3 separate regions of the Homo sapiens genome follow, and regions 1 and 2 are each reported to be linked to region 3. The links are microRNA targets in miRTarBase. Many come from high-throughput screens and were not tested one by one. Region 3 holds a microRNA gene; each other region holds the end of a gene's coding sequence.
What was found. The annotated mature microRNA hsa-miR-99a-3p reads CAAGCUCGCUUCUAUGGGUCUG and lies in region 3 at 3,686-3,707, shown strand. An mRNA with a match to its seed (bases 2 to 7 or 8) in the 3' UTR can be bound and repressed. Matches are read on the target gene's strand: a 7mer-m8 pairs with bases 2 to 8, a 7mer-A1 pairs with bases 2 to 7 and ends in A, and an 8mer does both.

Region 1: miRTarBase lists KIAA0319 as a target of hsa-miR-99a-3p. Seed matches in the 3' UTR shown: 7mer-A1 at 1,680-1,686.
Region 2: the mRNA of SLC46A3 is a reported target of hsa-miR-99a-3p. Seed matches in the 3' UTR shown: 7mer-A1 at 1,517-1,523.

Annotation. Positions count from the first base shown.
Region 1 is chr6:24,543,097-24,548,171 of GRCh38, reverse strand. KIAA0319 reads left to right here. Exons shown (of 21, transcript NM_014809.4): 21 at 829-4,065. The coding sequence ends at 1,007. Among named protein-coding and RNA genes, the nearest start is that of ALDH5A1, 51 kb to the right of the region's middle. RefSeq lists an enhancer at 419-941.
Region 2 is chr13:28,697,371-28,702,445 of GRCh38, reverse strand. SLC46A3 (solute carrier family 46 member 3) reads left to right here. Exons shown (of 6, transcript NM_181785.4): 6 at 865-2,366. The coding sequence ends at 949. All of the region lies in intron 1 of LOC124903143 (a long non-coding RNA gene), which reads right to left. Among named protein-coding and RNA genes, the nearest start is that of SLC46A3, 19 kb to the left of the region's middle.
Region 3 is chr21:16,535,453-16,540,527 of GRCh38, forward strand. It overlaps MIR99A (microRNA 99a), which reads left to right and starts at 3,637; the gene lies at 3,637-3,717. All of the region lies in intron 6 of MIR99AHG (mir-99a-let-7c cluster host gene), which reads left to right. It overlaps MIRLET7C (microRNA let-7c), which reads left to right and starts at 4,376; the gene lies at 4,376-4,459.

The DNA.
Region 1 (5,075 bases), not on the chromosome of region 3:
AACATTACTGAAGCAACCCCTGCCATAAGTATATGTGCTTATCTCCTAATTCATATACAATTTAAAAAACATCTAACCTGTTATGAGCCATCTTCTCATGAGTCTATGCCTTTTATGTCTTGTTTTTGTTTTTTTTCCCGAGACAGGGTCTTGCTCTGTCACCTGGGCTAGAGCATAGCAACACGATCATAGTTCACTGTACCCTCGAACTCCTGGCCTCAAGTGATCCTCCCACCTCAGCCTCCCAAAGGGCTGGGATTATAGGCGTGAGCCACCATGCCCAGCCAAGTCTATGTCTTAAACCCCTAGCTAGACACCATAAATCCTTTGAGAGTAGGAATTGAATCTTATACCTGTTCTGTATCTTAGGTTGACCCCCTGAAATCAAATATTCTACCAAAAATATTTTAACCAAATGGTAAAATCACAGAAGCTTTCGTTTGTTGGATGCTTACAATGTACTAAAGGCTGGGCCAAGAGAGCTTTACATGCACTATTTCACTTAATCCTCAGCATAAACTCATGGGGTAGATGCTTTGTTATCTTCCAGTTGAATAGAGGAGGAGACTGAAAGCTCAGAGAGGTTCGGTATCTTGCCCAGGCTCAAGCATCTGGCGAGTGTCAAAGCTGGGACAGAAGCTCGGGTGAGGCATCAAAGCCCCTGCAGTTACTTGCTAGGAAACCCAAACCGCCTGCTGTTTTGAGTGATTGCTTTCAAGGGGCGGAGAGCACCACTCCGTGCCCATCACAGGACCTGCAACCACAACGACTGACAGCTGGAAGTGAATCACGGCGTTCCTCCTCAGATGCTTCTGTGCTTCTCTCTAGGTATCAAGCACCGAAGCACAGAGCACAACTCCAGCCTGATGGTATCCGAGTCTGAGTTTGACAGTGACCAGGACACAATCTTCAGCCGAGAAAAGATGGAGAGAGGGAATCCAAAGGTTTCCATGAATGGTTCCATCAGAAATGGAGCTTCCTTCAGTTATTGCTCAAAGGACAGATAATGGCGCAGTTCATTGTAAAGTGGAAGGACCCCTTGAATCCAAGACCAGTCAGTGGGAGTTACAGCACAAAACCCACTCTTTTAGAATAGTTCATTGACCTTCTTCCCCAGTGGGTTAGATGTGTATCCCCACGTACTAAAAGACCGGTTTTTGAAGGCACAAAACAAAAACTTTGCTCTTTTAACTGAGATGCTTGTTAATAGAAATAAAGGCTGGGTAAAACTCTAAGGTATATACTTAAAAGAGTTTTGAGTTTTTGTAGCTGGCACAATCTCATATTAAAGATGAACAACGATTTCTATCTGTAGAACCTTAGAGAAGGTGAATGAAACAAGGTTTTAAAAAGGGATGATTTCTGTCTTAGCTGCTGTGATTGCCTCTAAGGAACAGCATTCTAAACACGGTTTCTCTTGTAGGACCTGCAGTCAGATGGCTGTGTATGTTAAAATAGCTTGTCTAAGAGGCACGGGCCATCTGTGGAGGTACGGAGTCTTGCATGTAGCAAGCTTTCTGTGCTGACGGCAACACTCGCACAGTGCCAAGCCCTCCTGGTTTTTAATTCTGTGCTATGTCAATGGCAGTTTTCATCTCTCTCAAGAAAGCAGCTGTTGGCCATTCAAGAGCTAAGGAAGAATCGTATTCTAAGGACTGAGGCAATAGAAAGGGGAGGAGGAGCTTAATGCCGTGCAGGTTGAAGGTAGCATTGTAACATTATCTTTTCTTTCTCTAAGAAAAACTACACTGACTCCTCTCGGTGTTGTTTAGCAGTATAGTTCTCTAATGTAAACGGATCCCCAGTTTACATTAAATGCAATAGAAGTGATTAATTCATTAAGCATTTATTATGTTCTGTAGGCTGTGCGTTTGGACTGCCATAGATAGGGATAACGACTCAGCAATTGTGTATATATTCCAAAACTCTGAAATACAGTCAGTCTTAACTTGGATGGCGTGGTTATGATACTCTGGTCCCCGACAGGTACTTTCCAAAATAACTTGACATAGATGTATTCACTTCATATGTTTAAAAATACATTTAAGTTTTTCTACCGAATAAATCTTATTTCAAACATGAAAGACAATTAAAACATTCCCACCCACAAAGCAGTACTCCCGAGCAATTAACTGGAGTTAATTGTAGCCTGCTACGTTGACTGGTTCAGGGTAGTTCCCCATCCACCCTTGGTCCTGAGGCTGGTGGCCTTGGTGGTGCCCTTGGCATTTTTTGTGGGAAGATTAGAATGAGAGATAGAACCAGTGTTGTGGTACCAAGTGTGAGCACACCTAAACAATATCCTGTTGCACAATGCTTTTTTAACACATGGGAAAACTAGGAATGCATTGCTGATGAAGAAGCAAGGTATTTAAACACCAGGGCAGGAGTGCCAGAGAAAATGTTTCCCCATGGGTTCTTAAAAAAAATTCAGCTTTTAGGTGCTTTTGTCATCTCCCGCAGTATTCATCCTCATGGGACCATCTTATTTTTACTTATTGTAATTTACTGGGGAAAGGCAGAACTAAAAAGTGTGTCATTTTATTTTTAAAATAATTGCTTTGCTTATGCCTACACTTTCTGTATAACTAGCCAATTCAATACTGTCTATAGTGTTAGAAGGAAAATGTGATTTTTTTTTTTAACCAGTATTGAGCTTCATAAGCCTAGAATCTGCCTTATCAGGTGACCAGGGTTATGGTTGTTTGCATGCAAATGTGAATTTCTGGCATAGGGGACAGCAGCCCAAATGTAAAGTCATCGGGCGTAATGAGGAAGAAGGGAGTGAACATTTACCGCTTTATGTACATAACATATGCAGTTTACATACTCATTTGATCCTTATAATCAACCTTGAAGAGGAGATACTATCATTCTTATGTTGCAGATAGCCCTCTGAAGGCCCAGAGAGGTTAAATAACTTCCCAGAGGTCATGGCCAAGAAGTAGTGGCTCCAAGAACTGAATGCAAATTTTTTAAACTGTAGAGTTCTGCTTTCCACTAAACAAAGAACTCCTGCCTTGATGGATGGAGGGCAAATTCTGGTGGAACTTTTGGGCCACCTGAAAGTTCTATTCCCAGGACTAAGAGGAATTTCTTTTAATGGATCCAGAGAGCCAAGGTCAGAGGGAGAGATGGCCTGCATAGTCTCCTGTGGATCACACCCGGGCCACCCCTCCCTCTAGGTTTACAGTGGACTTCTTCTGCCCCTCCTCCTTTTCTGTCCTTGGCCATCTCAGCCTGGCCTCTCTGATCCTTCCATCACAGAAGGATCTTGAATCTCTGGGAAATCAAACATCACAGTAGTGATCAGAAAGTGAGTCCTGTCTTGTCACCCCATTTCTCATCAGAACAAAGCACGAGATGGAATGACCAACCAGCATTCTTCATGGTGGACTGCTTATCATTGAGGATCTTTGGGAGATAAAGCACGCTAAGAGCTCTGGACAGAGAAAAACAGGCCCTAGAATATGGGAGTGGGTGTTTGTAGGGCTCACAGGCTAACAAGCACTTTAGTTGCTGGTTTACATTCAATGAAGGAGGATTCATACCCATGGCATTACAAGGCTAAGCATGTGTATGACTAAGGAACTATCTGAAAAACATGCAGCAAGGTAAGAAAATGTACCACTCAACAAGCCAGTGATGCCACCTTTTGTGCGCGGGGAGGAGAGTGACTACCATTGTTTTTTGTGTGACAAAGCTATCATGGACTATTTTAATCTTGGTTTTATTGCTTAAAATATATTATTTTTCCCTATGTGTTGACAAGGTATTTCTAATATCACACTATTAAATATATGCACTAATCTAAATAAAGGTGTCTGTATTTTCTGTAATGCTTATTTTTAGGGGGAAATTTGTTTTCTTTATGCTTCAGGGTAGAGGGATTTCCCTTGAGTATAGGTCAGCAAACTGTGGCCTACAGCCTGTGTGTGCACGCCCCATGAGCCGAAAAGTGGGTCTTATGTTTTCAAATGGTTAAAAATAAATAAAAAAATTTGAAACATGTGAACTATATGACATTCAGATTTGTGTTCATAAATAAAGTTTTATTGGAACATATCCACATTCACTGATTTATGTATTATCTATGGCTGTTCTTATGTTACAACAAAGTTGAGGAGTTTTGACAGGGACTGTCTGCAAAGCCTAAACTATTTACTATCTGGCCTTTTACAGAAAGAAAAAAATTTGCAGAAGGCTGGACTAACATCCCCTGCTCCTTCCCTGTGGGAAGACAAGTGTTCCGGAAGAACTGAGCATGCTCAGTCAGCTCGCCTTCCTCTGTGTGGGTGGTTCTCTGCAATTAACAGGCAGTCTGTCCCTCGTGCCAGAAGGCCCACAGCATGGTAGGGTGATTAGATTCTGGAGAGAGTATACTTACACTGCATCCTCTAATCTAGCTCTTATCAGTAATAAAGCCATTTTTAAAATGAGGGCCGGGCATGGTAGCTCATGCCTGTAATCCCAGCACTTTGGAAGGCCAAGGCAGGTGGATCACTTGAGTCCAGGAGTTCGAGACCAGCCTAGGCAACATGGCCAAATCCTGTCTCAAAAAACACACACACAAAAATTTAGCTGGTCATTGTGATGCATGCCTGTAGTCCCAGCTACTCAGGAGGCTGAGGTGGGAGGATTGCTTCTGCCCTGGGGGTGGAGGTTGCAGTGAGCAGAGACTGGGCCACTCCAGCCTAGGCCACAGAAGGAGGCCATCTCAGAAAAAAAGAAAAAAAAATGCAGATTGAGGTATAATTCACTTACAGTAAACTGCACATAATACAATTTGATGCTTTGATATGTGTGCACATCTGTGAAACCATGACCACAATCAAGCTGTTGAACAAACATAATTACCCATAAAAGTTTCCTCGTGGCTCTTTGTAATCCCCCTCTCCCCTGGCAATCACTAGAGATTAGCTTGAATTTTCTGGAGTTTCATATATGGTAGTACTGTATGGAGCTTTCCCCTCAAACAGGTAGTAGTTCCTTCCTTTCCAGGCTGTTTTAACTCACTCCATTAGCAACTGTGAACAGAAGTTCTCTGAAAAGGAATTTGAAGGAAAGAGACTTTA
Region 2 (5,075 bases), not on the chromosome of region 3:
ACTCTAAACAAATAATGAGTAATTTTGTCAAAAATTGATATATAAAAACGTTAATTACAGCAAAAAAATTTTAAGTGACCAAACTGTCCAACAGTGGGAGAATGTTTAAGTAAATGATGGTACAGCCATTTCATGAAAAATGACTTAACTAACAAGAATTGTAGCAGGCACCGTGGCTCACACCTATAATCCCAGCACTTTGGGAGGTTGAGGCAGGAGGACTGCTTGAGGCCAGGAGTTCAAGACCAATCTGGGCAACATAGTGGGACCCCCATCTTTACCAAAAAAAAACAGATTTTTTTAAACAGTAGGAAAATAACACTTAAAGAAAAGAATTGCATACATGGTGAGTAGAATAATAGGTAATTCTAATTTTAGTCTTCACATGTTTATAAATTCTGTTATAACAGATAGATAAAAGGCAGTTGTCCTTTTAATAATAAGGTAAAGTAGATGGGCTTCTGAGCTTTTTTTTTAACCTTACACTGCTCAATATTTTAAAAATCAAAATTACATACTGTCTTACCTCCAAATGTCCAAGCTTCTGAGCTTCAGCTATAGCTATTGAACAGGAACTTCAGTAATAGCTTTAGTTATAACTAGTTTATGTGGACTACACAGAGTTAACCATGGGACAGATGGGATACCTTAGGGGTCTAGAAGAGAAAAAAAATCATGCAGTTTTAAAATTATTTTAAGAACACCATGCATGAGTCAGCTGGATTCAAAATGCCAGGATACTCCTCCTAATAATCTGCATAATTTATTAAAAGCTATGTAACTGGGAAAAAAAGTTGGAAAACAGATTACTTATTTATGTATTGTCTTAATCTCAACTTTAAAATGTCTTGTTTCCTTTTATAGTGTTGTCAAGTGTACCAGCTGGAATGAGGGAAGCTATGAACTTCTTATACAAGAAGAATCCAGTGAAGATGCTTCAGACAGGTGACTGTGATTTAAACAAACAAAAAAAATCTATGAATGCACATATCATATACCATGACTTCTGAAGACTATAAATGAATTCCACAATCAGTGCTTCACTGAGAACCAATTTTACCTATCTTTTCTTCTAAACTGAACAGTCAGAGAGACAGCTCCTGGCTTTAGCTTCTTGTGGTACCACGCACTTTGAGCACTTTGTGCGTATCATGCAATATACTTGCAATACACAGAACAAATTTCAAATACGCCTCACTTTTAGACTTAGAAGAGAAACATTAAAACTTAAGGGTGTAAGGAGGGATCAAGAAACTTGATAAGGTCAAAAGCAATAATCTCTCTGACATATTCCAGGCTCTTACACTGAGACCAAAGAGAAATCTTTACCTCAGTTTCTTCATCAGCAGAATGGGTTTCTGGCCTCTCTCAGGGATAATTTTGAAGGCATAATGAAAATTATGATGAATCACTCATTGGTAGGAAAATAATGATATAAGTTTCAAATATGTATGATTTTACCTATACTTGGTAATGCTTTATTTTATAGAGCCTGTTAAGCTGCTATTGATAGTCGGAGCTTATATACTGTGACTTCTGAAGACTATACATGAATTCCACAATCAGTGCTTTGTTGATACAAAATCCTTAAAAGGGAGGCACTTTAAAGAATATGTATTTTTCACTTTTCTTAATATGTTTCATCGGTGACAGGCATGATAATATTTCTATATGTAATGGGTAATTGGGAAAAAATAGATGATAAATAAAATTGCTCTAAAGAAGTTAAAAAACTGAATGAACAGCTAATACTGGTATAAAGTAACTAATGTTTGGAGCCAACATTTGTTCCTTGTGTCAGCAAAAGGATATTCACATTCCATGATCCCTGGCTGAGAATTCTGCCTCTAGTCTTTCTTACCCAGCTGTTGTCTATCCTTGTTCAATTATAAATACTGCTAAGGGCATTTTTAAAATACGATCTTGTACTCCTTAAATTTGAATCCGTCAACACGGTCACTCATAGGAAAATGATCAAACAAGCAAGCCAGTCATGATTTGACTCCTTCCCATCTCATTTCTTACTGCCTTACGCTCATCCTGAGGTCCACCTTGGTCTCTAAAAACACCATGTGTTCTCATGCCTCCATGTCTTTTCACACACTGTTCCATTTGCTCTTCCTCCCACATTACATTGAAACTTTCAAGCCTCAGTCGAAACATTGCTTCTTCTGGATAGCAGCCTTCTTGACATCCCTCCTCACTCCCCAGTCCCTACAGGGCTTCCATAGCTCTTTGTGTGCACTTCGATCCCAGCATTTTCCATCGACTTGTAATTGTTTCTGCTACCTGACAATCATCGCCTTGAGTACTGGGACAACCTTTGATTACTCATTATATCCTCAATAAATATTTGTTGAACTAAACTAAATGACTACAAAATTTTATTTTTACTTGTAAAAATCATTTAGAGCTATATATTTAATGCCTTATGAGAGTAACCACTGTTATCATGCCAATCATTAAGCCAGCCTTGCAAACAAATTGAAAAATATGCCAGTTTATACACTTTTAAAACTGATTTACAGTATTTTCATAGGTCCTTTAATACCTCCCATTTTCGAAGTTACCATAAATAATAACACAAATGCCCTAACGTGCAACTAAATGAGTAACTTCATTGTAATCTCTTGAAAGTAGATACAATCTTCTGTTTTATAGTATTGCTTAGGGCTTTAAGAAAATCAATGATTGCTTGACTAGTGAATAGCACTCATAATTTAATATACTAGAAATCCTTATTTCCAAGATCATTCCTTTTAGGTTTAGCTAGTATCTTCTGGGCTTGGAGCCCGTGTAATAACTAATTCTCAGATTGACTGATACATTTTTGTTTTCCTTCCTGTCCAAGGTTCTTCCCAAACCAAAACAAAAAGCATCTTACAGTTTATAAAGTAGATATTCATTCTCCTCATTTTACAGAAGAGGAAGATAAGTCTCACAGAGATTTGGCTGGACCGTGGTTATTCAGTGCCTATCAGTATGACACATGAATGGACTTCACCCTACTGAATGAAGTCCAGCTACTTCATAGCTAGGGTTTGCAGTAATAGATTATAAACCCCAAAGCAAGAATTGTACAGGGGTAGCATGATGTACTCATCAAAAACAAATTAACAAAAAACTGTACCCAACTAACTGCCTATAATTATTATCTTTTTTGAGCTTAGACAAGATGGTCTATAAACTCTCTTCCAGCTCAACATTCCATGATTTTACACATCTCATCTGAACTGAAGAGGTACTGTGTAATACAGTTGAAGGGTTAACAGATGATTACTTGAGCAAAAACTCTATTTGAGATGTAGCAAGTATATCAGGAGATTAGATTGAGGTGGCCAAGGGCAAAAATGTAGCACAAATGAACTTAGCCATCTCCAAAGTGTCTAGCCTAAGAGACAATTAGTAAATGTGGTGCTGAAGAGACTAGAGAACCATGCAAGCTGATGGGATGGGGAACTATAGACTCAAAACAGAAATGAAAAAAAAAAAAATCTAATTTCCCATCATGTAACCCGATTATCTGAAGAAAGAATGTTAATGGAAGGACTGGTCTTTATGGAGCCCAGATAAAGAGAAACCAGAGAGGAAAAAACATGTTCCATGTTATCCAGCAGTGTACAAAGGGGGTTAGATTACCATATCTACTAGAAATGAAGATTCTCATCATTACAGAGGACTAGTCAATGGGATTGTCCACAGCCTGCATTGCACGGCCTCATACATCTAAATCCCTTTTCTCCACTTCCATACTCACTAGATAATTGTGTCCAGAGTTGGTTCCTTCTGGTGGGTTGGTGGTCTCACTGCCTTCAAGAATGAGGCCACGGACCTTCACTGTGTTACAGCTCTTAAAGATGGCATGGACCCAAGGAGTGAGCAGCAGCAAGATTTATTGTGAAGAGCGAAAGAATAAAGCTCCCACAGCGTGGAGAGTGACCTGAGGGGGTTGTGGCTGCTGGCTTGGGGGTGGCCAGCTTTTATTCCCTTATTTGTCCCTGCCCATGTCCTGCTGATTGGTCCATTTTACAGAGTGCTGATTGGTCCATTTTACAAACCTCTAGCTAGCTGCAGAGCACAGATGGTGCGTTTTCACAGAGCACCGATTGGTGCATTTTACAATACTCTTGTAAGACCGAAAAGTTCTCCAAGTCCCCACCCGACCCAGAAAGTCCAGCTGGCTTCACCTCTCATAATCTTCTAATTACTCATTCAATGCCCAAGAATCTTGACAATAGAATAGCATGGCCTGGGTTCAGTATTCTTTTAAAGAAATCCCTGCATATGAGAACCATCTGAAGAATTTAAAAATAAAAATAAAATAATTAATTAGTAAAAATAAAAATCCTTGGCCTCATGTACTAGAGATTCTGCTTCAGTAGCTCTGCAGTGAGGTCTTGGAATGTATTTCTAAAACCTCCCCAGGTGACTGATACACATCCAGACCTGGAAACTACTGCCCTAGATGACTGATTTTCAACCCTAAATGCACATTAGAATAATCAGCTTTGGGGTGGGAAGTAAAATGAATACATAACACCAACTCTTATTCTCATCCAGTAGTTCTCAACCTGCCAAGTCAAATCACTTGGGGAGCTTTTGAAACTTCCAATGGCCTAGCCTCAGCTCAAACACATTAAATTAGAATTTCTAGGTATGAGAGCCAGACAGTATTTTTTTTCAAACATTCTCCAGGTGATTCCAATATGTGGCTAGAGTTGAGAATCACTACTCTAGGTCAGGGGTTAGAAACCATTTTCTGTAAAGGGCCTGAGAGTAAACAGTTTAGGCTTTCTGGATTATACAGTCTGTCACATTACTTAACTTTGCCATTGTAGCACAAAGTAACCAAAGACCATACATAAATAAATGGACACAGCTGTGTGTGATCAAGATGGGACCTGGCGCAAATGGTTTCATTGCTAAACATTTAAGGAATAAACATATTAGTACTACCTACAGCTTTTCTAGAAAATAGAAGCAAGGAACACTTCCCAACTCATTTTATGAGGTCAGCATTACCTTCATGTGAAACCAAAGAAGTTACAAGAAGAGTAAATGATGAATTTATATCC
Region 3 (5,075 bases):
GGAAAAAAAAAAAAAAAAAAAAAAAAAAAGAGACGCTCCTGCTCAAAAACAAAAACAAAAGCAAACAAACAAAAATCCAAACCAAAACAAACCAAAAAAAGCAAACATTGGCTGTATAACTACAGAGACATCGGGCTTTGTAAATCAGCTTTTTAAGGCAACATAACCAAATGAGCCTTCTTTATTTTTATTATTTCAAACCATATGGCATAATTAGCAATATATTGCACTTGGTGAAATCGCACCTTTCATATCAGGTATAACTTTTTTTGTTGTTTTTCTTTTAAAGGCTACTGTTATATAAAAGGGAATCCTTGAACTTTTAATTTACTTTTATTTAACTCATTGCCCACTTTACTCTTATTAACTTTTTCCTTTTCCTCTCTTGCTCTAATCTTGATTAAAATAGAAACTTAAGGAAAGATAGAAAAATCTCTATGAAAAAGACAATACATGTTTTTATGTGGGGTATACACAGAAGTTTTGGAAAGATATTAATATATCTGTGCTTTTTGTGTCCAGTATTAGTTTTTGCTATCTAAGAAAAGTGAATGTTTAGACCTAGTGGGTAAAAAAAGTAAATCTTTCATGTGACTTATAATTTGAAATGTGAAAGAAGAAACTTTTTAAACTTGTAGAAAAGGGTTATATTAGAATATGCGTTGAATGACTGATAAATAAGATTGCTTTTGGGGAAGTTATATTCAAATTATTTACAAAGATTTCAGTAGAACAAAAATAGGAATGAGAAGAGCATGTTCTCAGTTGCTAGGTAGAAAAGAAGCTTCTTTCATAATAATATGCTCTTTTAAAATACATTTTAAAAGAAGTACTTGTCCTAGAGCAGTTGCAAAAAGCATTGGAAATATCAAGTGTATTAGAAAAAGTACATGCAAACTTGTTTTAAGTTCAGAGCAATGTATTGGCTCAGCAGATAACTGCATTGCATTATAATTATTTTGTCTGTTTGTAGAAGTAAATTGCTAAGCAATTTAAGCATTTTATTAAAAAAACAGTTTTGCCTGGTTCAGTGTGAAAGGATTAGCAGATGCATTCCAGCTATTTTAGTTTTGATAAAAAATGTTTCTAAACAAGTGTAAAAATAATTTTTAAAAGAGAATGCTTTTGAAAAATTCAGCAAGTATCAATGAAAACTATAATTTGCATACTAAGAATTGACGTTATAATATTTCGGTAAAAATATACTTTGGTAATCTGTTATGCTTTTAAAATCATATTTTCTTATATTACAAATATGTAGGGTAAACAATGAAAAATGTAGAACTGATTAATTCTGCCTTTGTGTTTGCTATTCTATGAACAATTACAGGAAATTGCAAAATCCCTATATACTGATAACATTCAAATAAAACGTTCTGTTGGTTATTGTTCACTAATTATTTACAAAATAGCTCTTGTACCTCCATGCTGCCTCAGCTAATGGTACACCAACTTTCACTGGCTTAATTAATATTGATAAACCTGTTTCCATGTTTCAAGATCCGTTTAAAAACATTATTTTAAATGTTATTTTTAGCAGCCATTAATCTCTACACTCTTAATTATCTTATTAAGCTCCATGCCAAATCCAAATCTCTTTTCAGCTTTCGCTACTTCATTGTGCAAAACCTAGTCGCTTCTTTAACAGCCATCGTCCTTTCACTTTCAAAACTGTTACTGTGAAAACAACACGAACCAAAATGAACGCATAAATGCAAACTATGAAACCACTTTATATGTCATATGAGTAGCCTGGGTGGGGCCCTGTGAGTCTTCCAAGGCTTTAAAAAAAAAATACTTTAAAAGGTTTTGCCCATTTTGATATCGTGTTTTCTTCTCGATCGTCTACCCTCATTCCCACGATCCACTCAGATGCTCCTCCTAGACAGCAGTTGTCTGATATTTCTCCTTTTGTGGTTGTTTTAGGGAAAAACTTAAAATGGATATGAAAAGTGAAGAAAGTGATCATAGGAGAAAACCATTTCAGGTAAAAATAAAAAACAAAGAGCAAATAAGATTTACTGTTTTTAAAGAAAAACAACATTCTTTTGACTGTGTTTTGTTATAAGAATTAATTTCATATTCTTTATGAGTGTAACTGTTGAAATTTTATTGATGGTTTTCATTTGAAAATGTGTGCTATGACCTACCTTTGTGAAAAATTTCTTGTGGTCAATTGGGCAGTTTGTGTCCCATTGAATATATGTCTGTGTATCCATACGCTTAAGATAGGTGCAATACGGTTTACTAGAAAGCTTTATAGGAAAAGAAAAAAATTATATTTTCTTATTTGTTGTACCATATAAAAGGAAGTGAAATCAGGAGGAGGGGAATAAGGTCATGCTTTTTCATCTTTTTTACATGACCTGATAAGACAATGAAACCAAAACATGCTTTCTTATAGTTATGGTAAAACTAAACCCAATGCTGCCTCTTATTTCACATTTGCATTTATAAATATATGTTGAAATATTTTTACTACAACTGAATGTATGATTGTTGATTATTTACTATAGTTTTTAATAATTATGAGGACAATTTAAGAATAAATAATGGTTTAAAATTATGTAGAACACATGATCTATATAAAGGCTATAAAACGTATTTATTTCAAAATATGCAAAATCACTAAGCAATTAGTATGTAGTATTATTTTACACAATAAAGATATAATTAGGAAATGCTAAGTGATTATAGATGTGAAATGATTAATGATTGTACAACTTATCATTTTGTTGCAGTTGAGTTTACAATCTTAAAAAAACGTGTATGTGGCTGGCTTTATGTTTACTCGTTTGTGTGTTTGCTTGTTGTCTGGTGGTTTAAAACATTTTTTAGTAATATTTTATTTTTGCCCAACCTGTTGACCAGATGAGAGTTGTATGTAGCCATGCATTTTAAGTGTATCTTTTTTGAACAATAAGTTTAAATATATTTTATTTAGGAAAGAAGATATCCTATGTCATGTAATACATCTGGAGTATAAATGTTAGTGTGGAGTATTAGTAATCATGCCATTATCGTGCCATTTAGTTTAGTTTTATATTAACTCATCCAAATATTGTAAATTTTAGCACCATTCCGACTATAGACACAGATGTATATATTTAAGGCTGATAATAACTTCCTGTATTCTCTAGCTAGTGAACAAGATCTTACTGTTTTATGAGAAAGTTATAATGTTACCAATTCCTTGAAACCAGTAACTAAACTAGTTTTATAAAAATTAAAATAAGCACGGTCTAACTCATACACAATTAACTTAATAGTTAATTTGGTTTTAATTATAGGCTCGTAATACTACATTCATGCCTCACAATTATATAATTCATACATGCATGTATGGATTCTTTTTTCTTTTAAAACTCAATTAGAATAGTTTAATTCCAAAATATTTACTATTGAAACAAAAGCAGTTCGTGAAAAATTTTTCAATAAACTACTTTTTAAATTCTCATGCATATAAATTTGTATTTAGTTTTGAATATTTATGAAGGCCTTTAATGGAGAATATGCATCCTTAGAACTCAGCATTTAAAACATTTATACTAAAGGATCAATATTATTTTTGACTCTTAATTGCATCAGATATTTACAACAAATTCTATATTAATAGGGGGCCCATGCAAGATGTTGCCCATTGGCATAAACCCGTAGATCCGATCTTGTGGTGAAGTGGACCGCACAAGCTCGCTTCTATGGGTCTGTGTCAGTGTGGTAATCTGACAAAATGCTATACACAGTGCCGTTCAACAATAGTTCAGTAAAATCCTGTTAAACTCCAGTTGATTATATACTTTTGAAGTCATTATATTTTCCTTTGTTTTTAATGTTTATTTTAATCATTGTCTGTCTTACAAGGCAGGCTTCAATTCTCAACAACTTGGAAGCGTTTATATCACACCCATTCAAGTTCGATTCCATGTACAGTAAATTGCATAAGAAAGTTGAACCTTTATAGCAGGGTTTGGACCAGGATCTGAATAGATTCTGTTCAGAAACTTCAGTGCATACTGTAGTGCTTAGTGTACCTCTTCAACTTCAGTAAGAAAATTAAAGACTACCATTGGATTTATATGTTTTTATTGAGCCTATTTCTCCTGAAAAAATGAGGCTGAATGCAATTGACTTTTACTATTAATTGCGACTAGAACTATGGCAGGTTAGATGGTCAGAAGACATTTTACGTGACCTATGCTGGAAACCCAAGTGTTTAGGTTAGTCCTATGAGAAACAGTTAGCAGCAAAGTTTACTGGTAAAATGTTAGAATATTATATCTATATCCTTGCCAAGCCCTTAGGTGTATGGCTGCCATATTTGGAGGAGCTGACTGAAGATATGATAAGGAGTTTGAAGCAACATTGGAAGCTGTGTGCATCCGGGTTGAGGTAGTAGGTTGTATGGTTTAGAGTTACACCCTGGGAGTTAACTGTACAACCTTCTAGCTTTCCTTGGAGCACACTTGAGCCGTCGAGGAATTCTTCATCACTTTAACCTGATTGAGCCAATTTGTGTGCAAGAAGGTAATGTGTCATGAGTATCTTGGATCATTGATTTGGGCCTTTATTACATTAAAATGATCATTTCAGCCCTATTAGATTATTCCATTTGTATCTGCTTATGAACAATGTCAAAATGGTATTTCTAATGGGTTGTCACTCCATGTTCAAACATTTTAAGAAAATTGTAGGTAGTGACTTAAATTGCATTAATATTAAAGCTTTTTATCATCTATAGATTAACAAAATTCAGACCTTAATTTTCAAATGGATCATTGGTCTATTTATATTGGCTGCTTAGACACTATAATAAAAAATGTCTGCTAGAGTTAATAGCTCCCATAGCACATTATTTGCGTTTTCCTTATGACACATCACTTTCTACCTTATGTTATGGCTATTTATGTGCTTGCTGATTTTTTCCGCACTAGACTGTAAGCCCCTTGAGGGCAAAGTCCATGTTTTATTTTTCACTGTATCCCCTCCAATGCCTTACTCATAATGAGCACTAACTATTTATTGGATTAGTGAATGGAGTGTAAGACCTCACTCTGTGATGAGTTTCTATTGAATAT